Linked DNA regions of Homo sapiens. The protein of the gene in region 4 purifies or fractionates together with the protein of the main gene of each other region. This does not show direct contact. Each region holds a gene or a part of one and is shown on either strand. Other genes may lie near its edges. The genes, in order: PPTC7, PPP4R3B, SLC25A14 and HS3ST4.

The links.
Region 1: the proteins of HS3ST4 (region 4) and PPTC7 purify together in Homo sapiens (affinity purification with mass spectrometry; one large-scale study listed by BioGRID and IntAct). This does not show direct contact.
Region 2: the proteins of HS3ST4 (region 4) and PPP4R3B purify together in Homo sapiens (affinity purification with mass spectrometry; one large-scale study listed by BioGRID and IntAct). This does not show direct contact.
Region 3: the proteins of HS3ST4 (region 4) and SLC25A14 purify together in Homo sapiens (affinity purification with mass spectrometry; one large-scale study listed by BioGRID and IntAct). This does not show direct contact.

What each region holds. Positions count from the first base shown.
Region 1 is NC_000012.12:110,536,638-110,544,334, forward strand, and holds part of PPTC7 (protein phosphatase PTC7 homolog), read right to left. Parts: intron 3,309-7,697; coding exon 3,185-3,308; intron 2,119-3,184; coding exon of another isoform or gene 2,092-2,118; exon of another isoform or gene 2,090-2,091; intron 1,637-2,089; coding exon 1,507-1,636; intron 459-1,506; coding exon 400-458; 3' UTR 1-399. UniProt on the Homo sapiens protein: Protein phosphatase that plays an essential role in mitochondrial metabolism and biogenesis. Positively regulates biosynthesis of the ubiquinone, coenzyme Q. Dephosphorylates the ubiquinone biosynthesis protein COQ7 which is likely to lead to its activation.
Region 2 is NC_000002.12:55,591,098-55,598,794, reverse strand, and holds part of PPP4R3B (serine/threonine-protein phosphatase 4 regulatory subunit 3B), read left to right. Parts: coding exon 1-379; intron 380-7,220; exon of another isoform or gene 7,221-7,284; coding exon of another isoform or gene 7,285-7,290; intron 7,291-7,697. UniProt on the Homo sapiens protein: Regulatory subunit of serine/threonine-protein phosphatase 4 (PP4). May regulate the activity of PPP4C at centrosomal microtubule organizing centers.
Region 3 is NC_000023.11:130,341,565-130,349,261, reverse strand, and holds part of SLC25A14 (brain mitochondrial carrier protein 1 isoform 1 precursor), read right to left. Parts: intron 4,081-7,697; coding exon 3,987-4,080; intron 2,719-3,986; coding exon 2,571-2,718; intron 12-2,570; coding exon 1-11. UniProt on the Homo sapiens protein: Transports inorganic anions (sulfate, sulfite, thiosulfate and phosphate) and, to a lesser extent, a variety of dicarboxylates (e.g. malonate, malate and citramalate) and, even more so, aspartate and glutamate and tricarboxylates.
Region 4 is NC_000016.10:26,130,220-26,137,916, reverse strand, and holds the end of HS3ST4 (heparan sulfate glucosamine 3-O-sulfotransferase 4), read right to left. Parts: intron 2,306-7,697; coding exon 1,669-2,305; 3' UTR 232-1,668; downstream 1-231.

The DNA.
Region 1 (7,697 bases), on a different chromosome or scaffold from region 4:
ACGTACAATTTGTGTTAGACTTGTACCATCCCTTTAGCATACTAGGATTTTGAATTCACTTTACCAACATTACTCATTTTCAATACTTCAACTACTTTGAAAAGTAACAGCCACGGTGGCACTGAACACCTCCATCCCCATCATGGAAAGAACATCGAGAAATGAAGGCCAATCTTCAAATATTGGATCTCTTCAATTGCTGCCGGCAGATATGAGCTAGTGAATGATAGTAGTGGTTCTCAACAAAGATCTCAACGAGTCTCAAGAAGACAGGCAAAAGACTTACATCACTGGCCATTGAGATCAGTGGCAAAGAAATGTGGTCCTGCCAGCAGGATCAGCACACATGGCAGGGGAAATTTGGGATGATGAAAGGAAAGGCAGGACTTGACACCTCAGCTAGTCTGTATACTCAGCCACTATTGAAAGAAGGACGGTGATGTCATCTGGCTTTCCACCTACAATGAAAATGAGAACCTATCAGTATATTTTAAAAGGAAAAGTCAATAAAAAATGTGTACTTAAATTAAGTACTAGGAGACAAATGCTTGCATTCCAGGCAGTTTTGGTTTGTCAGTATACCCTAGTAGAATAAAGAAAAAAATATTTGATTAAAAAAAAACAGTTAAACAAAACTCCAAGAAATTACATGAAACTGAAGCTTAAAAAAAAAAATCTTCCCTGCTCCTTTACAACAGGAGCTCTATTCAAACAGCCACCACACCCTCTGTTCACATCAATCACAGTGAATCTGACGAGAAAGTTACATGCTTCTATACCCACAATCCTAATTTAGACAGACATATCCAATGTTTTGAAACTAGGAATAGCCTTGTATTCTAATCTGCCAAACAGCTATGGCATGCACTTTTTCTATTTTAACATTTTTTGGAGGACTAAGAAATGTTTCACATGTCATAAAATTATACCAACAAGAAACTAATTCTACTAGCTCTGATATGCTAGCACCAACATGTCCCAGCCCTGAGACGGAGCCACTGGCCTGCTCCCAAAGTCACACATCATGCTGTAGATAGGACAAGTCTTCAGTCAAGGGCAGTTTCACATTGCTTCCCTCTTCAAACCCTGCTGTGGCAATTTGTCAGGCAAATACTGTTGAGTCCCACAAAGCCAGAGGAAGGGAGAAGCGAAATGTCAGACACGTGAAAGGCTGAATGTTAAACTGTTAGGAATGTCCACGCACTCTGGGCAGAGCTCGGAAGCCTTTTGGGTTCAGGTCCAAGCATTGCGGTGGCGGCAATAAAGGGCTTCAGGTTCCACCTGCCTCTGCCGCCAATGAGGTTCAGTTCTGAAGGGCATGCTGTGTGGGGAAGACATGACGAAATGCACTTGCTCTCATCCTCCTGACCTTGCTGAAAGCCACAAGTGCACAGTTTGGGGGCTGGGAGAGGACACCTCCACAGTCTCACCCAGAGCCCAGAATGCTCCACTCTACTGACACCATGTCCCCAGTCAGTCCCTATGACCTTCCCAAAGAATGCTTACCTCTCACATTCAATCCATTGTCACATGCAAACTGTGCAAAAGGTGACATATAATTTGGGTCATAGGCCAGCTCATGAGCTTGCTCAGCAATGCTTCTGGCAGTCTGTTGTATACTCTCATAATTTGAATTCTAAGATAAAGCATGAGGAAGTTATTTTACCATAATGCTCAAGACAGTAACATTTATCTAACCACCTTTTCCATCATGTAAGTTTTATTCTAGTTAGAAAAGACATTAAAACATCATGCCCTGGCTAATATGAACAAGACTCCAGTGCTGCCTGCACAAGGTATCAATCAGAAAGTCCTTTGCTTTGGTGGCCTTAAGCCCTAAAGTTTGGATTTTCATTTTTGCTTTTTTTCCCATTTGAAATTCTTAAGGTATTCTTGCTAAAATAGGATGAACTGAAAAGGCAGATTCTGATAGCCTTTGAAGGATACCTCAAAAGCTTCCTTGCTTAGGAACACAGCCTGGCCAACCCCAGTTTGCTCTCCAAGAGCTACCAGTTGCTCTAGTGAAAATACCTTCAGAATTTTATATCAGGAAGAGATTCCTGTCGAGCTGTGAAATCTTGGGCCATACCTTTATCCTTGCTGCTCCAACTTCCTCATCTGCAAAACGGGGATGGGAACACGAGGTCCACTTCAGCTCTAGTTTCAGTATAATGACAGGTCTCTGCTTCAATGTCACCTCCTCAAAAAGGCCCTTCCTGACCAATCTATCTAAAGTAGTAGCAGTCCCTTCTACTCTCTATTCCCTTATCCAGCTTTGTTTTTCTTATTTAGCACCCACATTACATCATAGATTTACTTCCCTGTATTTATCTATTTTCCTCCACTAGGATGTAAGTTCCATACAGGTAGGGACTGTGTAGATTCTGCTCACCACTGTGTCACCACACAGAGCACGGTGCCTGTGACAAGGAAGCACCTCACACTGACTGCACTCCACAGACAAGGCGTGGCGCTAAGGAGTTCCTACACAGGGCTGTAGTTAATCCTCACTGCAACCCTATAAAAGAGGATCTTTAGGATGCCCCATTTTATATGAAGAAAATACTGCTTAAACAGTTTTAAGAAACCCTCAGATCTCAGCAACTTCAATAAATAATAAAAAAAAGAAAGAAACGTACCCAAAGTCATACTGGTTAGAGGTAAAGACTCATGAGAAAAAGACTCATTTTTCCCAGAGTATGTTCACAAAGCCAGGAAAAAATTGAAAGCCTAGTTTCACCTCCTTCCTCTATGGGAGAAACCCATACTATTTGGTTACTGGTGGCAGCTCAGGTCACACTGAGGCTTCCAGTGGCCTGCTGCCTTTGGCTGGCTCTGGCATGACTATTTCCTGTCTTTGCCTGATTCAACACCTGCTGGGTGTTAGAAGAATAAAAGGAGAAACAACCAGGACCCGACACCATTAAAATATAAATAAAGATACAAACAAGAAATGCCCTCCATCTAGACTTTTCCTACTTCTACCAGCCTATGAAAACCTTGGGTAGGAAGCTTCTTTTTCCAAGTGCTCTAATTATTTGAAAGACCAGAGCTATTATTATTTTCCTGAAATTCACAAAATAGTTCTTTCCAAAACTACAAAGAGATAATGCAACTGAATCCATAAAACTCAGCTATCCAGAGAGGGCCACTTTTCCCAAGAGCTAACCTTTGAGTTAATTACCTTTAACTTTTTTAGCTCCTGAAGAATCATATAATCAGGCATGTTGTCAAAGAGTCCATCTGTTGCCGTCAGGATAATGTCTCCTAGCTGGACATCGAAAGACGTGCTATCAGCAGCATCCGGACTGTGGCAAGGACAGGGGAGGGACAAAGTTAAGAAGGCCCTTTACAGATGAGTTGAAAATGTCCTACAGGCACTATTTTACAATGTAATAAGCTTTCTGCAAGAAAAACTGATTTATCATAATGGAGTCAATTTTTAAAAAAAGTCATTCTGAAATTCCCAACTCTGAAAAAAGTTAATCGAAAATTCTAATATAAATGTTTCAAATTTTTAACTGAAACTACCGAGTAAAACCAAGTCTGATGATTAGTCACAAGTGGCTGAGAAGGAGGGAGGAAGGGTCCTCTTCTGAGTCAGATCTAACACACCTCTAAAATCCTAGTGGAAATGAGTCTTTATTCCTAATTCTTTACAGCCGAATTCCATCCCCCCCCGCCTTTTTTTTTTTTTTTTTTGGAGACAAGTCTCGCTCTGTTGTCGAGGCTGGAATGCAGTGGCACGATATAGGCTCACTGCAACCTCTGCCTCTTGGGTTCAAGCGATTCTCCTGTCTCAGCCTCCCAAGTAGCTGGGACTACAGGCATGTAAAATAGTGCCTGTAGGACCACAGTCATGCACCACCACGCCTAATTTGTTTTTACATTTTTAGTAGAGACAGGGTTTTGCCACGTTGGCCAGGCTGGTCTTGAACTCCTGACCTCAGGTGATCCGCCTGCCCCGGCCTCCCAAAGTGCTGGGATTACAGGCATGAGCCACTGTAATCACCAGCCACCCAGCCCACCCCCTCTTATTCACATATTTCACTCATCAGTTTCCTCGAATATTTGAATCTGGGTCCTGGAGTGCCATAGTGAGGGTGGGATGATGAATACCTGTGGAGAACAACATGCCAATCTTTTTTTTTTTTTTGAGACAGAGTCTCGCTCTGTCGCCCAGGCTGGAGTTCAGTGGCGCGATCTCGGCTCACTGCGAGCTCCGCTTCCTGGGTTCACGCCATTCTCCTGGCGCAGCCTCCCGAGTAGCTGGGACTACAGGTGCCCGCAACCATGCCCGGCTAATTTTTTGTATTTTTAGTAGAGACAGGGTTTCACCATGTTGGCCAGGATGGTCTTGATCTCCTGACCTCGTGATCTGCCCGCCTTGGCCTCTCAAAGTGCTGGGATAACAGGCGTGAGCCACTGCGCCCAGCCGCCAATCTTATAAGAATTCATTCACTGCTGGGTGTGGTGGCTCACGCCTGTAATCCCAGCACTTTGGGAGGCCAAGGTGGGTGGATCACCTGAGGTCAGGAGTGCAAGACCAGCCTGACCAACACGGTGAAACCCCGTCTCTACTAAAAATTAAAAAATTAGCCAGGCGTGGTGGCACACGCTTGTGATCCCAGCTATTCAGGAGGCTGAGGCAGGAGAATTGCTTGAACCCGGGAGATGGAGGTTGCAGTGAGCCAGTGAGCCAAGATCGTGCCACTGCCCTCCAGCCTGGCAACAGAGTGAGACTCCATCTCAAAGAAAAAGAAAAAGGAAAAAAATAATTCATTCACTTGCCAGTCGCAGTGGCTCACGCTTGTAATCCCTGCACTTTGGGAGGCCAAGGCGGGCGGATCACCTGAGGTCAGGAGTTTGAGACCAGCCTGGTTAAAACCCGTTTCTACCAAAAATACAAAAAATTAGCTGGGCGTGGTGGCACACGCCTGTAATCCCAGCTACTAGGGAGGCTGAGGCAGGAGAATCACTTGAACCTGGGAGGCAGAGGTTGCAGTGAGCTGAGATTGCACCATTGCACTCCAGCTAGGGCAACGAGAGCTAAACTCCGTCTCAAAAAAAAAAAAAAAAAAAAAGAATACATTCACCGGAAATAGCTACAGTATTTTGGCATAGTAAGGACTCTGTGTCTCCCAAGGGTCCCAAAGTGGTCATCATACGTAGGTATTTATTAGTGTGCCTCATGTAACACGTCTTCAAGAAATATCTTGATATCTTGACCAGGCGTGGTGGCTCACCCCTGTAATCCCAGCACTTTGGGAAGCCGAGGCAAGCAGATTATTTGAGGTCAGGAGTTCAAGACCAGCCTGGCCATCATGGTGAAACCCCATCTCTGCTAAAAATACAAACGTTAGCCAAGCATGGTGGCGTGCGCCTATAATCCCAGCTACTTGGGAGGCCGACACAGGAGAATCACTTGCTTCAACCCCAAAGCTGAAGGTTGCAGTGAGCTGAGATGGCGCCACTGCACTCTAGCCTGGGCAACAGAGCAAGACTCCATCTCAAGAAAAAAAAAAAATAGAAGAAATATCTGTTGCATAACTGAATGAAGCAGCAAAATATTTGACTCTCCAAATTGGGGGAAAAAACTCTTCAATATACTGTTGAAGAAAGCAAGGTGAAGACGGTGTGTCGTATGTGCAACCATTTCCGTAAAAAAAAAAAGGCAGAAAGACACACAGACATGGATGCTTCTATATGCAGGGAATAGATCTGGAGAGAATCAAAGAAACTGCTCATAGCGGGCTGTGGGTGGTGGCTCACACCTGTAATCCCAGCACTTTGGGAGGCCAAGGTGGGCAGATCACTTGAGGTCAGGAGTTCAAGACCAGCCTGCCCAACATGGTGAAACCCTGTCTCTACTAAAAAATACAAAAAGTTAGATCATGGTGGTGCACACCTGTAATTCCAGCTACTCGGGAGGCTGAAGCAGGAGAATTGCTAGAGCCAGGGAGGCAGCAGTAGCAGTGAGCCGAGATTGCGCCACTGCACTCCAGCAGCCTGGGCAGCAGAGCGAGACTCTGTCTCAAAAAAAAAAAAAAAAAAAAAAAAAAGAAAAAGAAACTAAAGAAACTGCTCATAAAGAAACCTTTGAGGACAGAATATGTGGCTAAGGGCAGGAACAGGAGGCAGATGTCTCACTAAACTTTTTTGTGTACAACTCTTGAAAAAAAAAACAGATGGAAGATCTTTTTCTCTGACAATGCCTGATGAAAACAGACATAAAAATGGGGGAAAACCCCGGGTGGGGAGAAAAGATCCTATATTCAGAGATCATGGCCTCCTGAGGCTGGTTCTTGGCGACTTCTTAAGGCCAGTTTCCCTCCTTCCAGGCCTCCCTGGGGAGGGAAAGGTGAGATCTGATAATCCGCCTTAATCTGTAATTAAGGAACAAGAGCCAGGAAAGCAAATCAGATACCGACCCGGAAGGGAGGCACCAGATCCAAAGCACCCTAAGCTCCACGGAAAAACCCCAACACTTGTGTAAGCAACATGTGACAACATTTGTGAAGAGAAAGCATAAAAACTAACAAACAAAAGCACACATGCCTATGAGGATTCACACTAAATGCACTCAGAAAATTTCTGGTTCATCTTCACTTGACTGAGGAAAAAGGTGGCACATGTAAAGTTCTGCCATGTGCTGCTGCAGGGAACCGACTTTCACTTACATATTTAGATAATCAACATTTTGTAAAAATGTCTACTAAAGGAAAACCTGTAAGTTAAGGTTAAAATAATATTCTGTAGATAAGAGGGACCATTAACTAAGGAGATACATGCAGCATGAAAAAAAAAAAAGGGAAAAAGACTGTAAAACTGGGGGAAATCAGGTCAATTCTTTCTGTGGAATAAAGAGAAAACAATGCAAGACGCTCTCATCTGCTCAGCCTTTGAAAGCTAATCAGATTCTAGAAGTGTAGATTAATGACCAGGTTGGCACTGAAGCTCTGTTTTATGCTGAGGTTTTTCTTTCCCCAGAAGTGTCCTTTGCTATTCTGTCTGTGAGAGTCTTGCTCCCATTGGACAGTTCGTCCTCTCCTAACACTCCCACCCATGAGCTTGGTGTTCTGCCAGCTGCAGTTTTGCCCATTTTGATTGAACATACTGTGCTGCTGGAAACTTTTGACCGCACTGAAACATGAGCTGAAATCACATGCTAGCGAGCTGTCTCTGGGCTCTAGGGGAAGCCACCTCCACCTCGCTGGCATGCCGGCAGAGTACTGCCCCAACCTGTCTGTCCCACAGACAGTGTGTGAGATATGGCAGGGCTGCTTTGGTGCTTGGAAGCCCAACAAGAAGAATCAAATGAAGAAAAAATTGAAGCACCAGTCTCCAAAAACTGTGATCTGAGCTTGGGCTCTACGGAGGCCTTGGGGTTCAGAGTTCTCCCCACTCCAGTGTGGCTAACAATAATGTAGATTACAGCCAACTTTAGAAGGGCCTAGAATCAAATACTCTTCCAATTATGGTCACCCGCCTACTTTTACTTTTTACTTTTGGATTTAGACTGGTGACCATAATTGGAAGAATATTTAGACTTTTACCGGTAAAAGTTACTTTTACTGCTAAATTTTTAGATGGGCAATGCTGAACATTTAATTACATAACATGCTCGTTCCAGTTTAAAAGATGGCAATAATAATTCATTTTATCTTAGTTTGGACCTAAGAGATGGTTTAATGAGA
Region 2 (7,697 bases), on a different chromosome or scaffold from region 4:
TTGCGAGAACCTAGAAAACACTGAAGGCTTACACCATTTGTATGAAATTATTAGAGGAATCTTATTCCTAAATAAGGCAACTCTTTTTGAGGTAATGTTTTCTGATGAGTGTATCATGGATGTCGTGGGATGCCTTGAATATGACCCTGCTTTGGCTCAGCCAAAAAGACATAGAGAATTCTTGACCAAAACTGCAAAGTTCAAGGAAGTTATACCAATAACAGACTCTGAACTAAGGCAAAAAATACATCAGACTTACAGGGTACAGTACATTCAGGACATCATTTTGCCCACACCATCTGTTTTTGAAGAGAATTTTCTTTCTACTCTTACGTCTTTTATTTTCTTCAACAAAGTTGAGATAGTCAGCATGTTGCAGGTAAGTAAAAAGATACTCTTCACGATTCCATTTTTCAGATATTTAGTTCCCTTAATAGTTCAAGCAGGTGTTTATACCCTCTATTTTTTGAAAGATTTATTTTGTTTAAATGTACTATTAAGTACATTTAAAGTAAACAAAAGAAATTGGGACTTTATGTCTTGTGGTTTTAGTGCAACCTTTTATTTATTTTTTTGAGTCGGAGTCTCGTTCTGTCGCCCAGGCTGGAATGCAGTGGCGCAATCTCAGCTCACTGCAACCTACGCTTCCCGGGTTCAAGCAATTCTTCTTCCTCAGCCTCCCGATTAGCTGAGACTACAGGTGTGCACTGCCATGCCCAGCTGATTTTTTTGTATTTTTAGTAGGGAAGGGGTTTCACTGTGTTGCCCAGACTGGTGTTGAACTCCTGAGCTCAGGCAGTCCGCCCGCCTCAGCCTCCCAAAGTGCTGGGATTATAGGCGTGAGCCACCGCGCCCAGCCCAGCCTTTTATATTTTTAAGTAGCCTGTGTTTTAGCTTTTTATACAATTTAGTATTTGTGTTTCTAAAATTGAGGTAGAATATACATAACATAAAATTCACCGTTTTGACTATTTATTTATTTATTTATTTTTTGAGATGGAGTTTTGCTCTTGTTGCCCAAGCTGGAGTGCAATGGCATGATCTCAGCTCGCCGCAACCTCTGCCTCCTGGGTTCAAGTGATTCTCCTGTCTCAGCCTCCTGAGTAGCTGGGATTACAGGCATGTGCCTCCACGCCGAGCTAGTTTTGTTTGTTTGTTTGTTTGTTTGTTTTTGAGACGGAGTCTTGCTCGGTCGCCCAGGCTGAAGTGCAGTGGCGCAATCTTGGCTCACTGCAAGCTCCGCCTCCCGGGTTCACGCCATTCTCCTGCCTCAGCCTCCCGGGTAGCTGGGACTACAGGCGCCCGCCATCACGCCCAGCTAATTTTTTGTGTTTTTAGTAGAGACAAGGTTTCACCATTTTAGCCAGGATGGTCTCGATCTCCTGACCTTGTGATCCACCCACCTCAGCCTCCCAAAGTGCTGGGATTACAGGCGTGAGCCACCCCGCCCAGCCCAATTTTTTGTATTTTTAGTAGAGGGGGGTTTCTCCATGTTGGTCAGGCTGGTCTCGAACTCCCAACCTGAGGTGATCCACCTGCCCCGGCCTCCCAAAGTGCTTGGATTACAGGCATGAGTCACTGTGCCCGGCCAGTTTCAACAATTTTTAAGTGTACAATTCATTGGCATTAAGTATATTTGCAGTGTTATGCAGCAGTTACCACTATCCATTTCCAGAACTTTTTCATCATCCCAAACAGAAACTCTGAACCCATTGAACAGTAACTCCCCATATTCCCTCCTTCCAGCTCTTAGTAACCACTATTCTACTCTTTATGAATTTGCCTATTATATATATCGATGATGCAGCTATTTTTTATTATTATTATTTTGAGACGGAGTTTCACTCTTGTTGCCCAAGCTGGAGTGCAATGGTGTGATTTCGGCTCATTGCAACCTCCACCTTCTGGGTTCAAGCGATTCTCCTGCCTCAGCCTCCCCAGTAGCTGGGATTACAGGCACACGCCACCACACTCGACTAATTTTTTGTATTTTTAGTAGAAACAGGGTTTCACCATGTTGGCCAGGCTGGTCTCAAACTCCTGACCTCAGGTGATCCGCCCGCCTTGGCCTCCCAAAGTGCTGGGATTACAGGCGTGAGCCACTGCACCTGGCCAATGCAGCTATATTTAACCCTTTTCCTGTCTGTCCTGTGAATACTCGCCAGTAGTGCTTGGCTGCAGTGTTTACCTTGAGATAACTTTGCCACAAAATACCTAGCTTTTATTATTATTTTTGCATTGCTGTGGCATATTGACTTTGGAAACAGAAGACATCATTCTATTTATAGCATTCTGGTTTTAATAGTGATATTTTCATTTACAAACTATAGTAATTGTTAATCACTGAAAATGTCAAATCGTAGAAAACATAGCAGTCCTGCACATGGTATTGTCATTCTCGAACAGTTGTTGCCCGAGGATTCGTTTGTTGAATCTGATTTTTTTTTTCGAAATAGACGAATCTGATGATTCAAACAATTCTGATGTTAGTTCTATTTAGAAATAACTCCAAGAACAGTTTTTATATTTTATTTTCACCTTGAAAGTCAGATTTGCTTCGGCCTCAAAGAGCGTGTTTATGTAAAATTAAATGAGTCCTTGCAGCAAGCTGTACTTTTTTTTTCTCAATGGGTAAAGGGTTAAAAGTATGTTTTCTTCCATTTTGAGAGATACTGTTATTATTGGGGTGTATACGAGTATGTGGCTATTTGCTATATGAAGGTGATTTTATTCTGTCTCCTTGAGTTGTGAAATAGGAGTTTTATACTATATTTATCATGTTAATCCTTTACACCCTAACAGTATAGTAAGCATGCTTTTTAAGTACTTGTCTTACTTGTAACAGTAGCCTATACTCAGCTTTCTGCATAACTGCTTTTGTTATTTCCATATCATTCACTAAGTTTATTGAGCAGCTACTATATACTTAGTATTGTGGATCTCAGAGTGTGGTTTGTGGACCTCTGGAAGTCCCTGAGCCCCTCTTACAGGCATTTATGAGGTTTTCCTTTTTCTAGTTTGATGTCAGTGTGAGGCTGTGTTTTTTTTTTTTTTTTCATGTACTTTTGCTTAAAGAACATATTGCAACACACTGAATGCCAGAAAAGATAAATGAGTATCTGGTTGTCATTTGTTAAGCCAGGTATTGAGATTTGCAAAAATGTAAAAGGGGCTACTCTTTTTTATAAAAGTTTAAATTTTGGATCATATAGCTGTTTCTCTTAAAAAATATTTACATAAACATAAAATGACTTATTTTAAAATGAATTCATAAATATTTTCACGAGTCTTGGTTTTAATTGTAATTTTTAAAAATTTATTTTATTTTTTATATAGAGACAGGATCTCACTGTGTTGCCCAGGCTGGTCTCAAACTCCTGGCCTCAAGTGATGCTCCTCACCCTCCCAAAGTGCTGAGATTATAGATATGAGCCACTGTACCCAGCCTCTGCATAATTCTTAAGAGTTTAGGCTGGGTGTGGTGGCTCATGCCTGTAATCCCAGCACTTTGGGAGGCCAAGGCCAGGAGGATCACTTGTGGTCAGGAGTTTGAGACCAGCCTGACCAACATGGCGAAACTCCATCTCTACTAAAAATACAAAAATTAGCCAGGCACAGTGGCACGTGCCTGTAATCCCAGCTACTCAGGAAGCTGAAGTGGGAGAATTGCTTGAACCGAGAGGCGGAGGTTGCAGTGAGCTGAGATTGTGCCACTGTACTCCAGCCAGGGTGACAGAGCGAGACTGTCTGAAAAAAAAAAAAAAAAAAGTTTAAAAGGGTCCTGATACAAATAATTGAGATTCTATCTCTGACTTAGTGCCTAGCTAATCGACTTCATTTTGCGACGTTTCCCACCAGTAGTCACCTATTATTGTTTACTTTAATTTTTTGCATAGGATTTACTTTTCTTTCAGGTCATTTATTCACCTACCAATTTTTTGTTATTCACCAATAATGAGTGTGGGGGAGGTTAGATGTACATATCAGGTTCTTTTTATAATATATAGGACCTGTGTATTTTTAAACTGTAGTATACAATTCAGGGTGCTATTTCACTTGTTGACAGAAAAACATTTAATAATCTTAGGAGATTGGACAGAGTCACAGTCTGTAGTTGATAAAAAGAGGACCAGGAACAGAAGCTCATATGTAGCTTTCAAATGACTGTTTTTGTCTTCAGAAGGGTTTCCAAATTCATACTAGTAAATCGTAAATACTTTTTTATATTCAGAAAATAAATTATATGAACTATAAATATTTGTAAAACTTTGTCATTTTATGTATTTTATAATAGGTTTATTTGTGAAGGCTATAATTACGTAAATCAAGTGCAGCTTTTTATTTTTCTAAAAGATTTACTCATTTCTGCTTCATGAGATGCATTTCATGAAATAGCCAGATTCTGTGAACTGTCTGTTATTTACATAACATTTACTACTTAATTATCTCTTATGTGCCAGCAATGATGTTGAATTTTTTTTTTTTTTTTTTTATTTTAGATTCAGAGGGCACATAGGCTTATTTGTTACATGGGTATTGCATGAGTAATGGTGGAGATTGGGCTTCTAGTGTACCCATCACCGTGATATTGAACACAGTGCCCAGTAGATAATTTTTAAACCTTCAGTCCTCTCCCATCCTACCCCTTTTTGGAGTTCCCAGTGTCTGTTATTTCCATCTTAATGTCCTTGTGTACCCACTTGTAAGTGAGAACATGCGATATATGATTTTCTGCCTCTGAGTTCACTTAGGATAATGGCCTCCAGCTCCATTCATGTTGCTACAAAAGACATGATTTCATTATTTTTTAACATTTCATTTGTATTCCACAGTGTATATATACACCCCATTTTCTTTGTCTGATCATCTGTTGGTAGACACTTAGGTGGGTTCCATGACTTTGCTATCATGAATAGTGCTGCGATCAATATACAAGTGCAGGTGTCTTTTTAATATAATGCTTTTTTTTCCTTTGGGTATGAATTGTGTTTTCAACTATGTGTGAAAAGGAAAGAAATAAGATTGTGGCCAGTGGTCTCTATTTTATTTTATTTTTTGTAGAGGTGGGGTTTTGCTATGTTGCCTAAACTGTTCTTACCTGGCCTCAAGCAATCCTAGTGCCCAGCCTTCCAAAGTGTTGGGATTACAGATGTGAACCACCACACCTGGCCCTACAGTGGCCTCTAAGCACTTATTTCCTAAAGTCTCACTCTGAGATTTCCATGTAGAAATTTTTGGTTAGGTAGTAGGTGTTTCTAGATACCTATCTGGGTATCTAGTACACTTACCTGTGGTTTCTTAAATGCGCATTAACTTGCTGCTGTGTGAGTTGTAGAAGGCAAGTGAATATGTAAGAATTTTATGTAACTGGGCCGAAGTGAGGTAGTACGAAGGTCCTTATCATAAATCCTAGCTTAAATTAGGTTAATTAACTGAGAAATTATATGAGAGTACTTAGCATAGTCAGTGGCTCCTAGTATGTGTGCTAATACATGTTGACAATATCTTAAGCATGATAGGGACATAAGACTTTAGTGACTCCAAATGTTCTAGCTAATTGCAGATCAAAATCCCCTGTGCCCAGAATTGAGCAACATTCTTTTAAAATATTTTAGAAATTATTTATTTATTTATTTTGAGACAGAGTCTCGCTCTGTCACCCAGGCTGGAGTGCAGTGGCGCCATCTTGGCTCACTGCAGCCTCTGCCTCCCAGGTTAAAGTGATTCTCAAGCCTCAGCCTCCTGGGAGCTGGGATTACAGGCAGCAGCCACCATGCCTGGCTAATTTTTGTATTTTTAGTATAGACAGTTTCACCATGTTGGCCAGGCTGGTCTTGAACTCCCAACCTCAGGTGATCCACCCGCCTCAGCCTACCAAAGTGCTGGGATTACAGGCATGAGCCACTGCCCCCAGCCAGAAATTAAATTTTTGAAAGCAAGTAAAATGAGATTATTTCTGCACAAACAGTTATAGAATAAGATCCTTTTCAGAACAAAGTTTTAATTTCTCTCCTTACTAGAAATGATGGAGGATAGGAATCTCAAATGTTGACATTTTAACACATTTACATATATTATATTATATACATATTTCTGCTATTCCATAGGTAAGAGTTAAGCTTAAAATTAGCCCAGCAGGATTAGCGGTTTAGTTCTCTTTTTAACATATTTTGCAGATGCTAAGGTTTTGGCACGGAAAGAGAAAAATTTCTAACTTCCCATCCCAGTTACAGATTAAGTATGTAAAATCTTCAGATACTCTTTAAAAAACTGTTTAGAGTAATAGGGCTTTTCATTTTGTTTTTAGGATTTTTCTTTGGATTCAAGTACAGGATTTAATATATTAAATTTTATCTTACTAGATTTGGCCCATTCCAGCTTTGTGTATCTTTTGCTTTGGTTTGATTCATACGTTTGAAGTTTGAAATACTTGGAAACCTGTCTTGTGGTTTACTTAGTAGGAGTGACAAAAACCTCATTAATTATTTGGGAGGCCTGGATTCTAAATCCATCTGTCACTAGCTACCCTCAGAAAGGTTCACTTTTTGAACCTCAGTCTCTTGAAATTTAAAATTGGACTTGACAGTCTCTGTAATGTTGCAAAATCTGATTTAATTCTAAATTTCTGTGTTTATATGTTTCTAAAAATGAATGGGTTCTGTTTTTTCTTTTGTTTGGCCTGTATTTATATTACTGCAAAGAGAAGAGTTTGATTTAGACTGTTTAGAAGCAACCTCTTTTTTTCCCCACAGTGTTTTTTTATGTTGTCCAGAAAAGCAGCCACACAAGTTTTGACTTAAATATATAGGTTTTATTAAAACAAAAGCTGTTAAAACCAAATAGAAAAGAAAAACTAAAAGAGATTAGTTTGATTACTTGGAGAACCAGAGATTTTGGAGTAAGTATTTCAACTATATGATAGGCTTTAAGTTATTGATTATTTGCTTCCTTCATAAATATATTGGAACAGAGTGCTTTTATAGCTTAATGAATAATAGCCAGAGTAATGCTGGAAATCAGGGAAAAAATACTAGGAATACATATTCTCTTAATGGACTGTAATAATTGAGATTGCCTCTATCTGTAATATTTTATGCAGTTCTACTTATCAGCTCACAAGTACCGAATCATATAAGAAGAATTCAAGTGGGAAATTGCATTTATCAAGGAGTTGGAACTTTTTTCTTATGAAAATATTTTGAAAAAATTAAATTTTCAGGTAGTAAAGGATGAAGATGTAATCTACAACAGATGCAGGAAAATAGAAATTTATAAAAGGTGTGAATGGAGGTAAATATGTACTTACTCACCCTAACCTAAAATATTAAGACTAAAAGTATTTGGAAAAAGTAGGCTGGGCATGGTGGCTCATGCCTGTAGTCCTAGCACTTTGGGAGGCTGAGGTGGGAGGATTGCTTGAGGCCAGGAGTTCGATACCAGCCTGGGCAACAAAGTGAAACCCCCCCATCTGTACAAAAAATTAAAAAAAAAATAGCCAGGTATGGTGGCACGTGCCCGCAGTCTCTGTTACATGGGAGTCTGAGGGAGGAAGATTGCTTGAGTCCAGGAGGTCGAGGCTACACTGAGCCACGTTTGTACCACTGCACTCCAGCCTGGGCAACAGAGTGAGACTCTAGAAAAAAAAAAAAAGGAAAAACTAACTTGAGGGCTAAATAAAAGATTACATATGCATATAA
Region 3 (7,697 bases), on a different chromosome or scaffold from region 4:
CAGGAGCAATTCTGAAAAAAAAAAAAGTAAAAAGTTATTCTCAACATTTTCAGATTATACATATCTAGATAGCCTACTTATTTGGACTACCCATCTCATTCTACCCAACAACAGCAGAATATGATTTTTTTCAAGCACTCATGAAACACTCAGCAAGAAACTGAACATTCTGGGTCATAAAACCAACCTCAACAAATTTAAAAGAACTGAAATCATATACAATATGTTATCTGACAATAATGGAATCAAACCAGAAATCAATAAGAAAAATCCTCAAACATTTAGAAATTAAACAATATATATCTAAATAATCTATTGGTCAGACCAAGTGTCTGTCAAAGGAATTTTTTTTTAATTCACAGGTCTAAATGACAACAAAATTCAACCTATTAAAATGTATGAGATGCAGCCAAAGCAGTGCTGAGGGAAATTTACAGCATGAAATGCTTGCATTTTAAAAAAAAAAAAGGGGGGGGGGGGGTAGAGTCTCAAATCAATAATCTATGCTCCTACCTCAAGAAACTAGAAAAAGAAAAGCAAAATAACCCAAAGCAAGCAAAAGAAAATAATAAAAAGCACAAATCAATGAAATTGAAAATAGGAAAATAGAGAAAAATCAATGAAACAAAAAGTTAGCTCTTTAAAAAAAAATCAACAAAATTGATAAACCTCTAGCAAGACTCACAAAGATAAAAAGACAGAAGATGCAAATAAGAAATGAAACAGGGACTAGCACTACAATTCCTGCAGCCATTAAAAGGACAATAAGAGTATGGTATAAACAACTTTATACTCATAAATTCAACACCTTAGAAGAAATGGACAAATTCCTTGAAAACCAGAAGCTACCAAAACTCAACTAGATAAAACAAATAATCTGAATAAAACTCATACCCATTGCAATGGACTGAATGTTTGTATCGTCCCCAAATCAAGATCTTAAAATCCTAACCCGCAATATGATGGTAATAGGAGGTGATTAGGTCATGAGGGTAAAGCCCTCATGAACAGGATTAGTGCCCTTATAAAAGGGATCCCAGAGAGCTCCCTCACTCTGTCTGCCATGTGAGGATACAATAAGAAGTCTTGGCAGTCTGCAACCCAGAAAAGAGACCTCAGCAGAACCTGACCAAACTGGCACCGATCTCAGATTTCCTGCCTCCAGAACTGTGAGAAATAAATTCCGATTGTTTATAAGTCACCCAGTCTATGGTATTTTGTTATAGCACCCCAAACTATGATAACCTTAAAGAATTTGCACTCTGAATTTAAATGTTCCCCAAAAAGAAATAGCCCCAGATAATTTCACTGGGGAATTCTACAAAACATTTTAAAAATTAACACTAAGCTTACACAGTTCCTTCCAGAAAACAGAAGAGGGAATGCTTCCCAACTAATTTTGGCTAGTATTACCCTGATACCAAAACCAGACAAAAACAGTACAAAAAAGGAAAACCACAGACTAATGTCTCTCATGAACTTAGATGCAAAACTCCTTAAGAAAATATTGGTAAATTGAATCCAGCAATGTATAAAAAGAATTATACATCATTGCTCACCTAATAAAGATTTTTTTAAAAAAATCAACCTCTACTTCCTAACAGTTGCAGATACGTCTTTAATCACATCAACAAGGAGGTACTAGAGCCAAAATTCCACCCTATTTAAGTTCTCCTTTAAACTGGAGACATTCTCATTCATACCTCCTTTGGGATTCTTCCAAATTGCAGAACTATACTGTAGGAGGTATAAATAGAAAGACAGCAGCAGCTCAAATGGTTAGGATTTTTAAATGATGACTAAATATGCATATTTCTGACTTTATTGCTTGCTATCAGAAAATATCTTGTGATGATCTATGCTGATGAAAGAACAAGGTGAAACAGATGATCCACAAATCAGGATGGTGGATCATCTTCAGGATGCTTCAGGATACACTACTTGATTTTTCCCCCAAGAAAATTACCTTTTAAATTAAGTCTAACATAGTTTAACGATGTAACATAGTTTAACAATAAAATTGATGTCTATTCTCTGAGTAATAAACTGGTAGCCTAGATGCAGGAGTGGCCTAGGAAACTGGCAACAGATAAACTACAAACTAGACAGTAAACCACAAAATTATGGCTAATCAAAAGGTGATGATAAAGATGGGTCTCCCTCTCTCTCATTATGCACTTTCTGTTTAAACTGCAAGAATAATATTTTTTCAAAGAGGAAAATTTTAAAGGAAGTCAGAATTTGCCAACTCAGGAGGGATATCACAAAAATATATATAATTAATTGGTGCTGTTATTAACAGTGGCTATTAGTGACTCTCGGGAAATCCACAGAAAGCCTATGCTGCAATGACATATCCATTTTAAAATGTTATTATCACTTATAACCAAATGAACACAAAATCCAAAGCTCAAGACTTACAAGCAGGAGAAATATAAACTGGCATATCAATACTGAATTACAAGTTGAAATGGTGAATATGAAACGGACACAAACTATCAGACAGCTGAAAACTATGGCTTCTTTAAAAAGCATTTCTGTTAATGATATAAGGAAAGAACCAGTCTCACCCTGAATAGAGAGCCAATACACCTTCCTCTTTACAGATGCGAAACAGCGCATGGAACATCCCTCTATATTTTATCTCTTTGAAACGGGCATCAATGCTTTGGCCTTGAACCTGAAGTCGTGTTTTGGTAAGGTCCACAGGGAAAGTCCCTATAAAGGAACACACTTATTTATAAGTATGTCCAAAGAATCACAGTTAAGTTGTTGCTAAATATAAGCCAAGGACAATATTTGAATCCTAAGACAAAGTCCTTTTTATAACACATAGAAGAGCTCTAGTAGAATACCACTGTCAGAGAACATGAGTTGCATGTGGTAAGTGAAATGCATTATACTATACATAGGCAGCACCAATTGACCCACAATATACTTCAAACTGTAATATAATAAAATGCTTTCAGATTGCCCTATTATAAATGCAAAATAATTAAATGTTGTTTTTTATTTCATCTGTAACATATAATCTGGCATTTATCAGTCTCCCTCCTGCCCCTTCCCACCCCAAGTCTCCCCACCTCTGTGTCTCATAAAATCTCCCTAAATTTTCACAAAGATAGGAAAGCATGGGATTGCTGCTCCAGATGCTCTTATATAGTGTTACAAAGTTTTGTGGGGTTTTTCTTTTATCTGTTTACAAGAAACAAATAGTCCCCTAATATTATGAAAGATAATGGCAAAGTCTTATTTGGTTCTACTCATCCTGGTCCCTTAGGTAATTCAGGACTAATACCAGCAGAGTGTTTGGGGGGGAAATTTCTTTAACCAAACCTCTTACATCAACAAACAGAAGTGGTCATCACATTGACAAAATATATTTCAGGGTGTAAAACTAACAAGGTGATTAGGTAGCTCTGGTCACTGATGACCCAAATATCACAACACCACAGGATATGCCAAGAACGTCAGTAGTCACTCATGAATAGTTTAGAAAAGAGAACATCTGGAAGATGAAAAAAACGACAATCTAAAAATATTTCAAAATCAAAATCATGTAGAAGAGAATCTTGTTTGATCTTGTTAGTACATTTTCTTCTAAAATGGGAAAGAGGTTTGAAAAAAAGGACTTTCAGTACAAATAAACTTATAAATAATTTAGCATAAAAGACTATTAATACAGAAATATAGCAAAAACCCTTATGACATATCAACTCCCTCTATATATTCATGTATTTTACTTAAGCCTAGCAAACTAACAAATCACTAAACTACCAAAAAAGCTTTCCTTAGTTTGACTTTTCTTAACTCATCTGCCATACCATCAGTAGTACTTTCCCTGAAATATTACTTCATGGCTTTGAGACAATTTTCAAAATAAGGCGAGCTTCTTATTTTTTACCTAGCTTTCACCAAAAATAACCATCATCATAAGCTACCATCTATACCGTATAATGCAGATTTGTCATTTCTCACATTCTTACCAAACTCAGCCACGATAGAGGCAAGGCCGCCATATACAAAGGGTTTCCAATTCAGACCAGACATCTCATGACTTACAGTGGTACTTTTCTGGTGCTAAAAATAAACACAAATCAGAACAAGGCACAAGAGTGAGGAGCATTTGTTAGCATCTGATCATATAATTTAGATAAACAAAATTGGCAAATAAAATAGATGTAGAAGAAAAACCCCACCAAGTGGAATGACACAAAAATGGGGGATCCTGTTTTATGTGCTGGATGATCATGAGTTTGTTCTTTACTGACATTTTGTAGGGGTAGGCGTGTGATTCACTCAGAGATCAACCTGTGCCCTTCATTCTCTCCAGTTTCTTTAATGTTATATTCATCCCCACCCAGAGAAGAGGCTTCAGTCCATCCAGCACACCCAACTTTGACATTCAACTAGATAATTACAAATGAAGGAACCCGGAATTCAAATTATATAGGCTGAGGCATCTCATAAAAGCAGTTCATGGTATTCAGTTAGCTTGATTCAGGTGCAAAGCACAGGCTCACACTACTACTCTCTCATATTCTTAGCCCTCCTATCTCTCTACTATAGGGTTTCTAGCTATATATAACTTTGTCCCCCCAACTAGGCCCAGGCTGAGCTAAGAACTTTTTCACCTTCCTTCTAGCGCCCAAAGGAATGATAGCAATATGATGTCTATCTTCCCTCTGACATTTAACGTACATCCATCTAGTGGATCTCCTTTTCCTTCCTCTTGGCCTTTTAAAACACACACATATAAATACTGTTCTTCTTTTATGTTCTAGTTCTTTAACAACGTATTCTGCTCCCAGCCTCCCTTTTCTCCTTCCCTATCCCACCCCCGTTAGACCTGTCATCATCAATCTTTTCAGCTTTACTCTCTTTTTCTGCCACTGTCAGCTTGCTCTCTCTTGGATTTTATTTTTTCCAGAGCTCTGGCCTCTAGGTTTTGCAAATTTTAGCATGTATTAGAATCATCTAGAAGGTCTATTAAAACATAGATTGTTGGGCCTCTCCCCCAGAGTTTCTGATTGGTGGTATGGCCCTGAGAATTTGCAAGATCCCAAATAACGCTGATACTTCCACACTTAAGAACTGCTCTAGGCATTGCCTACTAAATCCTGGTCCATCTGAAAGTAGTATCTGTTCTTAGCATGGACTCTCAGATTTCTTTCAAATATTCCTTTTTCAGAGCTTCACAGTATGTATACTTCTGAATTTCAAAAGCAACTTCCAAGTGGTTTATGGTGAGGAATGCAGACTCCTGAAGTCAGACTGTTAAAATTTAAATGCTAACTCCAGATTCATTTCCTGACTCCACCACTTACTAGTTCTGTGACCTTGGGCAAGTTAATCTCTCTATGCCTCCACTTTCTGAACTGTAAAATGGAACTAATAATAAAAACTATATCATAGGGTTGTTGTGAAAATTAAATAATATATGAAAAACACCTTTAAAAGTGCCTGGCATGTAGCTCAATAATTGTTAGTTAACTATCATTATTACATTTTTAAAAATTTAAGTACCCAAATTTACATCTTAACAGATATTACTTGCTGCCCACCCCTCCCTCCCATTGCCCAGTCTGGGGTTAGCAGCTATGAGTCACAGTATCCCTTTGAAGGTTTTGCTTTGTTTCCACATAAGGAATTCTCTGTAACTAAGCAAAATACAATTTTCCAGAGAAGATAGCAAACACGCTGATTAAATGTTTTAGTTACAGGCCACAAAAATCATTATGGAGGCTTCCTTTCAAGCATAGCACATATAGAGTCTGGGATAGATAGCCCTTTTGAGGGAAAGTTGTTGAAAAGAATTCTAATGAGCAAAGTAGGAATAGCCACTTCAAGTATCAACTGCAGCTGGAAATAGGAGTCTTGAAGACTAAATACTACCTTATCACCATTTCTAGCTATGCCCACATTTTCCAATTAGAATTGATAGTAAAATATGACACATATGGTGAGAGTAGAGATGGAAAAGCAAGACCATGGCATATCCCCTCTTTGAGTTTGTGAGGAAAAAATTAACTCTCCATTCACAAATTTATCGATTGCCCCAAATAGTCTTAAAGGTTTCAGACAGCTACTTTTACTTAAAGTTGTCTCTCCAAAACTTTTTCTCCTTACAACTTTTTTCAACTCTTTGTATTACAGAGAAAGCCTCTATCGGAACTTCACAAGCTGCTACCAGCCCTTTAATAAGGAAAATGTGCTCAGGGAGCAATGATGAATCAGTGAAAGGCAAGGAACAGGGAGGACATGGCAGGAAGATGAAAGACCAGTCGCTGAATCTTAGGCCAGTTAGCCCAGTGGTTCCCTAATGAAGTTCCCACAATTCTGGGGCGAAATGAAAAAAATAAGGACACTTAGTCCTTTTTTTTTTTTTCAGCTAAATGTATTTAATTTAGGGACTGTCTATTATTAACAGATCAGATTCTTCTTACGCCTGGAGCACAGGCTAACTAGCCTGTATTTGTGTACCCTTCCCACATTTTCATTTACATTTTACTGGCCCATGAAATCCAAAAATCTGGAGACCACAGGCAAAACCCACCATTGCCACAATCACGACTTCCCTACCCCCATCTGATAGTAAAATCTCTTTCACTCCAATGTTAGGAAAAAATCTTATGAAGAAATCCTGGATCATATTTGATTAGATCTGTTTTTAGACACTCCCTCCTCATATTGAGCCAAAAGTCTGTCTTCCTCTAATTTGTACCCAGTCTTTGGAGGTAATATTCAACAAATGCATTCTTTTTTCCCTAGGCAAGCCCTTCAAATATTTAAAGACAGCTATGATGTTCTCTTACATCTCATGTTTCTTGAGCTAAATATCCATGATCTTTCTCTTCATTTGACACATTATACTTCAATTACTAGAGCTTAAAATTGCACTCACTTTTTTGGGAGCCACATCACACTATCAAATCATTAAACTGTCAGCTGAAACCTCCAAGTCTTTTACATAAAGTTGTCTACATGCATGCGTGTTGTGTCACACCTATTCTACAGGTGTGCAATATTTTTTGAACCTTCTTTTATCCCTTCTATATCTTAATCTCAGGCATAAAAATAATGACTAGGATGAGGGTCAACTTCAAGATGTCCAATGTTATTTCCTCTCTTAACTAAGTAAGATCCCCAAGGGAAGATACTATATCTCACAGTACTTTTTATAACCCCCATTATAGCTTGCATAGAATTGAATACATATCCATTCAATACTTAGTTGGTTTTGCAGTGTGACATCCTTTACCTATGTATGCAGCCTGTATATAAAAGATTGCAGAGGAAACAAGGAAGGTAACTTGCTGGACCTGGCCAATGCTACACACCCTGTGTATGACACTATCTTGATCCCCAGATATTCTCTGCCTGCGAACCCTGTTCCCTTGCTTTTGTTCCAAGGAATTACTTATGTAAAATACCCCAAGCCCTCTAAAAATTATTTTAACTTGTAGGGGCTAACCCCAAATATGCGTAAAAGTAGTCATATCTAAGGTAAAATAAAAATATAGTACCCTAAATATTTTTACTGTATAAAGAAACCAATGAAAATTGTCTTCAAAATGCCAACATTTATTCTGAAGATCTGACTTCGGAGAATTTGATAGACTAATGAGTGAAAGTAAGAATGTCCTACAATACAAGTTACATTGCCCTATACTACTCCCAAGATCTGGTCAGGAAAC
Region 4 (7,697 bases):
TATCAGTCCATTCCTTGTTGGAAATGGTTAAGATAGGAAAAAGCTGCACTCCTTTTAGGACCCACTTGCTTTGTACTATTGCAAGATTCACTGTGCCCTGCAGACAGAACCTTCTGAAGATTCTTGCCTCTGGGACTTTCTAGCCATCTCAGAGAGATGATGCTCCTGGCATTCCAGGGGAGGCGGGAAGATGGAGATGATCAACACAAACACACCATCGAAACTCATTAATCAGGTTGCATTAAGCTTTATAACAACACGGTTTTCATTTAGCGGGAGAAATGACAGTTTAATAACAGCTGAACAGATTTAACTCCCCCCACTCATACAAATTTCCAGTTTTACTAGAACAATTCCTGGTTTTGGAGATCTGTGAACAAGTGCTTTATGTCAAATGATGCATTTTAATTGAATCAAACTGATGGGAAGGGACACTTCATTCAGCAGCTCTTGATGGGGGTTTCTGCAGACAGCCCTTGCTCACCCCCAACCCTCATAAACTGGATCTGATGAATGGAGTCAGCTTTCTCGCCACTACCTCACTCTCTGCCATCTCTAAATAGAGAAAATGAAGCCCGAGGAGGTGGTGGTGGGGCAAATTGGAAGAATGCTGACTGCTCCTTTCTCCATTACATGGCTAAGGATTATTCCTAATAACAGACTTGTCAACTCTCTGGTCTTTGCCCTTCTAGGGACCCTAGGGGACAGAGTCCACCCCAAAAACATGCTCAGAACTACAGTGCTTGGGAGAGATGGTCTTCAGGTAAGGTAACCTCCCACCAAGAGGACAGGATTTCTTCTTTTACCCCCAGATATGGCCACTCATCTCTGCCAACCCCAGAGCTCTGACCTCGGTTACAATTACTCTACTCTTTGAGCAGCCCTGTGGGCCTGATCCGAACACAAGGGCATATGCTAAGCTTCTGCACAACCCAGGATACTCATGAAGAGTGAGACCCAACCCCATTTAGAGGGCTCTTGGAAAGAAGGCTTCGAGGTGTGTCAGCTTTCATTTTCTTCTGTGTGTGTGTGTGTGGGTGGGTGTGTGTTTTCTTTTTCAGTGAGGAATGTGCATGCCTCTGCCTTCATGATGTGGGGAGGGAGGAAGTCAGGGGTTGTGGGATGAGACCTTTAAAGAGAAGACTAGAAACACCTTAGAGGGAGGACCTTGCTCCCTAGGAGTCCTGGAGCACTCAGCCACAAAGTGCATTCTGGGGAGAAGCCCAAGCAGAGGTTTAGACAGCAGGTGCCCATGACAGATACAGGGCTAGAACCCTGGCTCCCCAAGCTAGAGTGAGAACCCCTATAAAGCAGACCTTTTTTGTCGCTCACATATACATTAATAGCACTGTCTCTGACATTGACAACTATTTATCCTCTGTCTTCAGGCTATATTAACTAGCAGAAGATAAGAATGAACAGTGGGTTCTGGTGGCCATCTGGTCAACCAGATGCTGCTGCCCAGATGGGCCTGGTTCCTCCATGGGGATGCCATGGGATCCACCTGTTTGCCTAAGCTAACAGCACTGGAGGCAATCCTGGCTGCATGAAGGAGGAGGAGATCTACTTGGCACTCCAGCAAGTGAAGCTGCAGAAGCTGGGGTATTCAAGGACTCAGGCAAGGAGCCTCCTTAGCTTATTGACTAGCCTTCCTCTGCCTCTCTAGCCTCATTTATCACCCTCTTCCTGTTCCCACTGAAAATCTTGACCAGTCATTTGGTAAAACATCAAGTTGAAGGGTTTGTAGAATTTCCTCAGTCTGTGGATGACATCTGGGTCAATGCGAGGATGAGTCCGACCTTTGCTCTTGCCTAAGCACCTCGGGGCACTGCTGTCTTCTGGCTTCTTTAGGCAAGGGAACCCCTTGGTTTTGTTGAAATAGAAATGCTTCTCAGTCACAACACGTTTGAGGCCTAGAAAATCCTGTACTTTGGCCATTTCCCCGGCGGGGTCCACAATGAGTCGCTCACCACTGACAAAGAGGATCTGGGAGAGGGGGAAATACTGGAGCCAGTTTTCCAGATGCAGCGCATAGATCCCTATTCGAATGGCACTCCAGGAAGCATCGATCAGCCCGAGGGTCCGGTTTTTGAAGGCCAGCACCTCAAAGGTGGGGATCTCGGGTTTCTTTGACAGTGTCTGCGTGTAGTCAGAGATGGCCCTGGTCACGGGGTTTCTCACCACCACAATCAGTTTGATGTCCTTGGCCATGGAGTGAATGCGCTTGGGAGCCTCATTTGTCACAAAGTAACTTGGAGTCTTCTCCATGGTTATTTGCCCATCCAAAGTCTTGGGCATCACATTTCTAGGAGAGGGAGGAAAAAGGAAGAGAATGGTTATTCCTGTCCAGAAATATCTGAACTTCTTTGCACAAAATGTGTGATATAAACAACCTAGTTTGGAACCACCAAATAAAATTGATAAACTCTTGCAAGTTCTTCTTACCTATATCTCCTGACTATAGTCTTACCCTGGCTACGTATTATCAGAAAAGGCAACACAAGGCATATACATTCTCTCCCTTATATATCCCTAGGTTTAAATGGCTATTCTACCTCTTACCAGTTATGTTTAACCTAGATACACCCTTGATTTCTCTACGTATTAGTTGTATAATCCCTGAAACAGAGATAATGATAGCACTGACTTCACACTGTAGTATAAGGATTAAGGGAGATAATGCTCAAAAAGCATTGAGCAATGAAGCTGGCATGTGTAAGAGTTCAATAAATTAAAGAAATTATTATTGTTATAGTAGTTTTTAGAAAATCTTTGAGCTCAACAAGACCTCAAAGCTTATCTAGTCCAGGATTGGCAAACTACCTCCTGCCTCCTATTTTCGTCTAACTCACAGATAAGAATGATTTGTAATCACTGAATTGTTGTTGAAAAAAAAACCAAAAAGATAATAATAATATTTTGTGATGCATGAAAATTATATAGAATTCAAATTTCAATGTTTATAAATAAACTTCCATTGGAACACAGCCACATTCATTCATTTACATATTCATCTAGGCTGCTTTTACAGTAAAACAGCAGAGCTGAGGAGGTAAGACAGAGGCCATATGGCCCAAAGCCTAATGTATTTACTCCTTATTCCTTTAAGAAAGAGTCTGCTGATCCCTGACTTGGTCCAAAGGTATTATTGTGCAAATGAGAAAACCGAAGCCCAGGGACAGGGAATAAACATGGAAATCAGACAGGCTTTGTGACCTCAGCAAATTGAATTATATCTTCGAGCCTTATTATCCTCATTTGTAAAATCCTAAAACCTACCTCAAATCCCAGCACTTTGGGAGGCTGAGGAAGGCAGATCACAAGGTCAGGAGTTCAAGACCAGCCTGGCCAATATGGTGAAACCCCATCACTACTAAAATACAAAAATTAGCCGGGCATGGTGGCACGCGCCTGCAGTCCCAGCTACTTGGGAGGCTGAGGCAGGAAAATCACTTGGACCCAGGAGGCAGAGGTTGCAGTGAGCTGAGATTGTGCCACTGCACTCCAGTCTGGGTGACAGAGTGAGACTCCATCTCAATCAAAAAAAAAAAAAAGAAAAGAAAAGAAAAGAAAAGAAAAGAAAAGAAAATTCAGTTGAGAGGAAAATGACATATAAGATGAAAGATCTAGCATAGGTATGGCTCAATATATGGGATTTTATTCTTTCTTTGCTCCCAAAATTGCCCAGAAAGCCACTGACAGATCCCATACCAGGGTCAGTATCTCTTGGTTCCTTTGCTAAGGCTGCTCCTCCACTCCCATTCCTCCATCCGAGTTTGCCTCCAGAGTAGCCTTATCTTATTTGGGAGCTCCAAGATATTAATATTAAAGGGGTTTGATGCCATTTTCCCCTAATCTCAATGTGGCAGGCTTATCAATGATAAAATTAAGCTTAGAATGCCATTATACAGTCAATTTGCTACAGGCATATGTAGACCAAAGTTAATTGAAGATAAACCTGTTCAATACCTGTCAGTACAGCAGGCCATCTGCCACCATGTGCTCCATTAAATCTATTCACTTCTGAGCCTTGCACCAAAGTGGTGCATTTAGGATTACACAAGACCTCTTTGTTATGATGACATGCTTTTAAATGTCTTAGCTAATAAAACTTAATACAGACAAAGATCCCCTAGCTTCTCCTACCATAATTAAATTTATTTACTATCGCGTGTGTGGAGAAAGAATGACTTTTCTTTTATCTCTAATTCACATGCTCTGTCAATAATTAATTGCAACTGGGTTTTGAGCTATCTCGGCAAGCACTTTTATGAGGCAAGAGGAATTTGCCTCGTAGAGAAATTCACAAAGAGCTGGATGTTGTTAGTATAATGGTTGGGCAGCGTGGTGTTTTCAGATCAAAGCAATAGCCCTGGCCATAAACAACCATGCTCATCTTGGAGTGACATATTCTCCAAAGTAGTTTGAATGCCTTTGTGTGTGTCTGTTTGGTTCTCAACAGATCAATTTGTCTAATTTGGAGGAACAGGGCTAAGGAATGCAGCCCCTGGGAATCAGATTTGCCTGAATTAAGAGTTCTGATTACCCATGCTACCTTGATGAAGTTACTTAACCCATTTTGACCCTTAATGTTTCATCAAAGAAAATAGGGTTAATAAAAGGCCATGCCTCATAGGATTTTAATGAAGATTAAATGTCATAATGCAGGTAAATCACTTGGGATCATGCCGGTTCAATGTCAGAATTTTTTTAACTTAAGCCAGCTGGCCAAAATCAGGATTATTCTTACAGTAATTCTTACAGAAGGGCAAGGAAAAAAAAAATACTTCATTTGACCAAATGGAAAAGGCAGGAAAACATGGTATCTAAGGAACTGATCTAGAAAAAAGTATACTCTAATTCATGCCAATATCATCAATTGCACTTCCGGATCTGGAGGCTGGTGTCCAACAAGGGAGCTACCATTAGCTCAGCCTGAGTATAGGAAATATACTGACCATCTTATTTTTATTTCAAGTGGAGAGATATATTCCCTTGTTTCATTATGCAACTCATATCATATTATAAAAATATTAGATAAATCTTGATGCAAAAACACATCACCTGAAAATAGCTATTTTTATACGGCCTTTTCCAGATTTTAGTTCCCCTGATGTACTTTTGACACACAAAACTAAACACATTATTTTGTTGCATTTTTCTTTAGTGTAGGAGCAGCTGCTCAACTTTTCTTTTCATCCATTCTTCACCTTTGCCTTCTTAGACCTCAATGCTTCTCTTTGCACTGAGCCCCATTCAAATTCATCTCCTTTACTTCAGCTGATTGACGATCTGTCAAGATCTTTGTGGATCTTGAGTCTTTTATCTGAAGTATCTGGGACAAAATGGTACCCAACATATAAGCTGGTAGATTTAGCAGAGTAGATGTGTGCCTAACTTACTGCTTGTTGCAAAAGGAAATAAGAGAAGGCATTGCAGAAGGCTTTGGAGACAGTAGAGGGGAGCAGAGGAGACTAAATAGCTTTGACCTTCATGCTACCCATGAATGTGAAAAGTATATACTTTAGGAGAGTTTTTGCATTTGGGGCACACATGGGGAGACTATCTCATTGAGCCATGATTCAACCAATGTGGCATGAGTTATCCAGTTATTTTGTCAGTGAGAAGATATCCAGTAGTTGCTTGAAATCTATAAAGGACAAAGCTCCCTTTCCTCAAACTGATTCTGAATCAGTTATAGTCATTCATTCATTCTTTCATTCATTCCATAAATGATCACTATGGGTAATGTAACAGTAAACAAAACGGATGCAGTCCCTTCCTCCACTAAGCTACCAGTCTAGCTCCCACAGCTGATACATAAAGAGCTCTTTATAGCATCATATAATGAAGTATTTAAATCAACAGAGCAGGCATCATTATTACTCCAGTTTTACAGAGAAGGAAACAGGACCAGAAGCTAAAGATTTGTTCCAAGGTCTCACTAAGTATGTATTTTGTTTCTAAGTTGAGTGGCTGAGCAAGAGTAATTCAACACCAGGATCGGTGACAGGTCCTGGCAAATAACAGGTTCTCAGTGCCTATCTGTTGAGTGAATAGATGGGTGAATGACAAGCCATTAATCTCCACTCCTAAGTGTAGGCCAGTCCTAATGCTAGGTTTTTGTTGTGAAAGGTTTTGATGCCTTAATCTTCCTTTTCCCCACTTTCATCTCTCACCTGGGGCTCCGATCCAGTAACTACTTCCAAACCATGCTGGTCTCCCTCTTCCTGTAAGATTAGAGGAGGCATCCCTCCTGTGGATAGGACAAAACCCCCTGCTAACCTGGGCTTTGGATCTTATTCTCTTCCAACCTTTCAGGCACTTTTTCTCTCAATTTCTCTTCTCTCTTCTAGGTTTTAAGTAAGTTCATTTTAACTGCATCTGACACTTCAATATACTCATGTTCTCACATTTTGGTGTGCTTGAGAAACAGAAGGAAGACCAGTAACGCTGGAGGGCAGTGAGCAAAGGTAAGAGAGTCAGAAAATAGGGCCAGGAAGACAGACAGGGAATAGACTATGGAGGGCCTTATGGGCCATGGAAAAGGTACTGGAATTGTTTTCCTCATGTGATGAGAAGCCACTGAAGAATATCTCACAGAAGAATGTGATAAAATTTACACTTAATTTTATTTTTCTGGTAACTTTGCTGAGAAAAGATAGGAGTGTGGCAGAGATAGAAGGAAAGTAACCTGCTAAGAGACAATTTTAGGAGAGAAAGAGAGAAATGGTGGGGGGCCTGGGTGTAGGTGGAGAGGGCAACACAGAAAGAAGTGCTCAGAATAGGAGTAGATTTTAAAATAAGGCCAGAAGTCCTTAATGATGGGTGGGATGTATGTGCAAGAGAAAGAGAAGCATCACAGGTGACACCAACATTGTTGGCCTGTGCCAGTGGCTACATGGTAGCATGATTTACTGATGTGGACACTACTGGGAACAGGGCAGGTTTTAGGGGAAGATACCAAGTCAATTTCAGACTTGTAATATGAGATATGTCCTACATACCCAGGTGGAGGGATTGAGTAATCATGTTGACACAGGAGGCTGAAATCCAAGGGAGATCCAGATAAGAAGTGGACATCTATGTCCTGTGTTCAAGTTCCACCTGCCAGGGAGTAGGGAGAAGAATGTCTGCCCTCTTTACCTTTGTTAGAAGAAGACACGACTGTCCTCTGCCTATGCTGGGAGTTCTCTCAAAACTGAAAGGTGTTCAGATGCTAGGTGTGCAAAAAAAATTGTGTTTTATTTCATTACAAAGATGTTCATGAACTTCTTCTAATTCCCAGAGTCCTTGTTAACTACCTGCGTTACAGGGCTTAGAATAATGTCATAATATGATTTGTTCCCATGTCTTTCATGGCTAGTCTCAGTTCCTTGGGGCTGTAGGCAAAGTTTTAATCACCTTTGTATCCCCAGCGCCAAACACAGTGTCTGACATGTACTAGCTGCCCCATTACTATTTGTGGTTACTGGATGAAAAACAAACGACATTCCAATGAATACATGGTCTCTGGAAGTCAGGAGAACTGGGACATGCAGGACATGGCTCATCTAAGTAGGTGTTCCATGCATGGGGTTCAGCGTTTCTGACTTTCCTCCCATCCCTGTCTGAAAGACCATGCACTTCAGCGTGAACCATATGGTGAGAAAACACTGCATCTGGGCTTGGCACAGCTCGTTAACAGTATCTTGGGC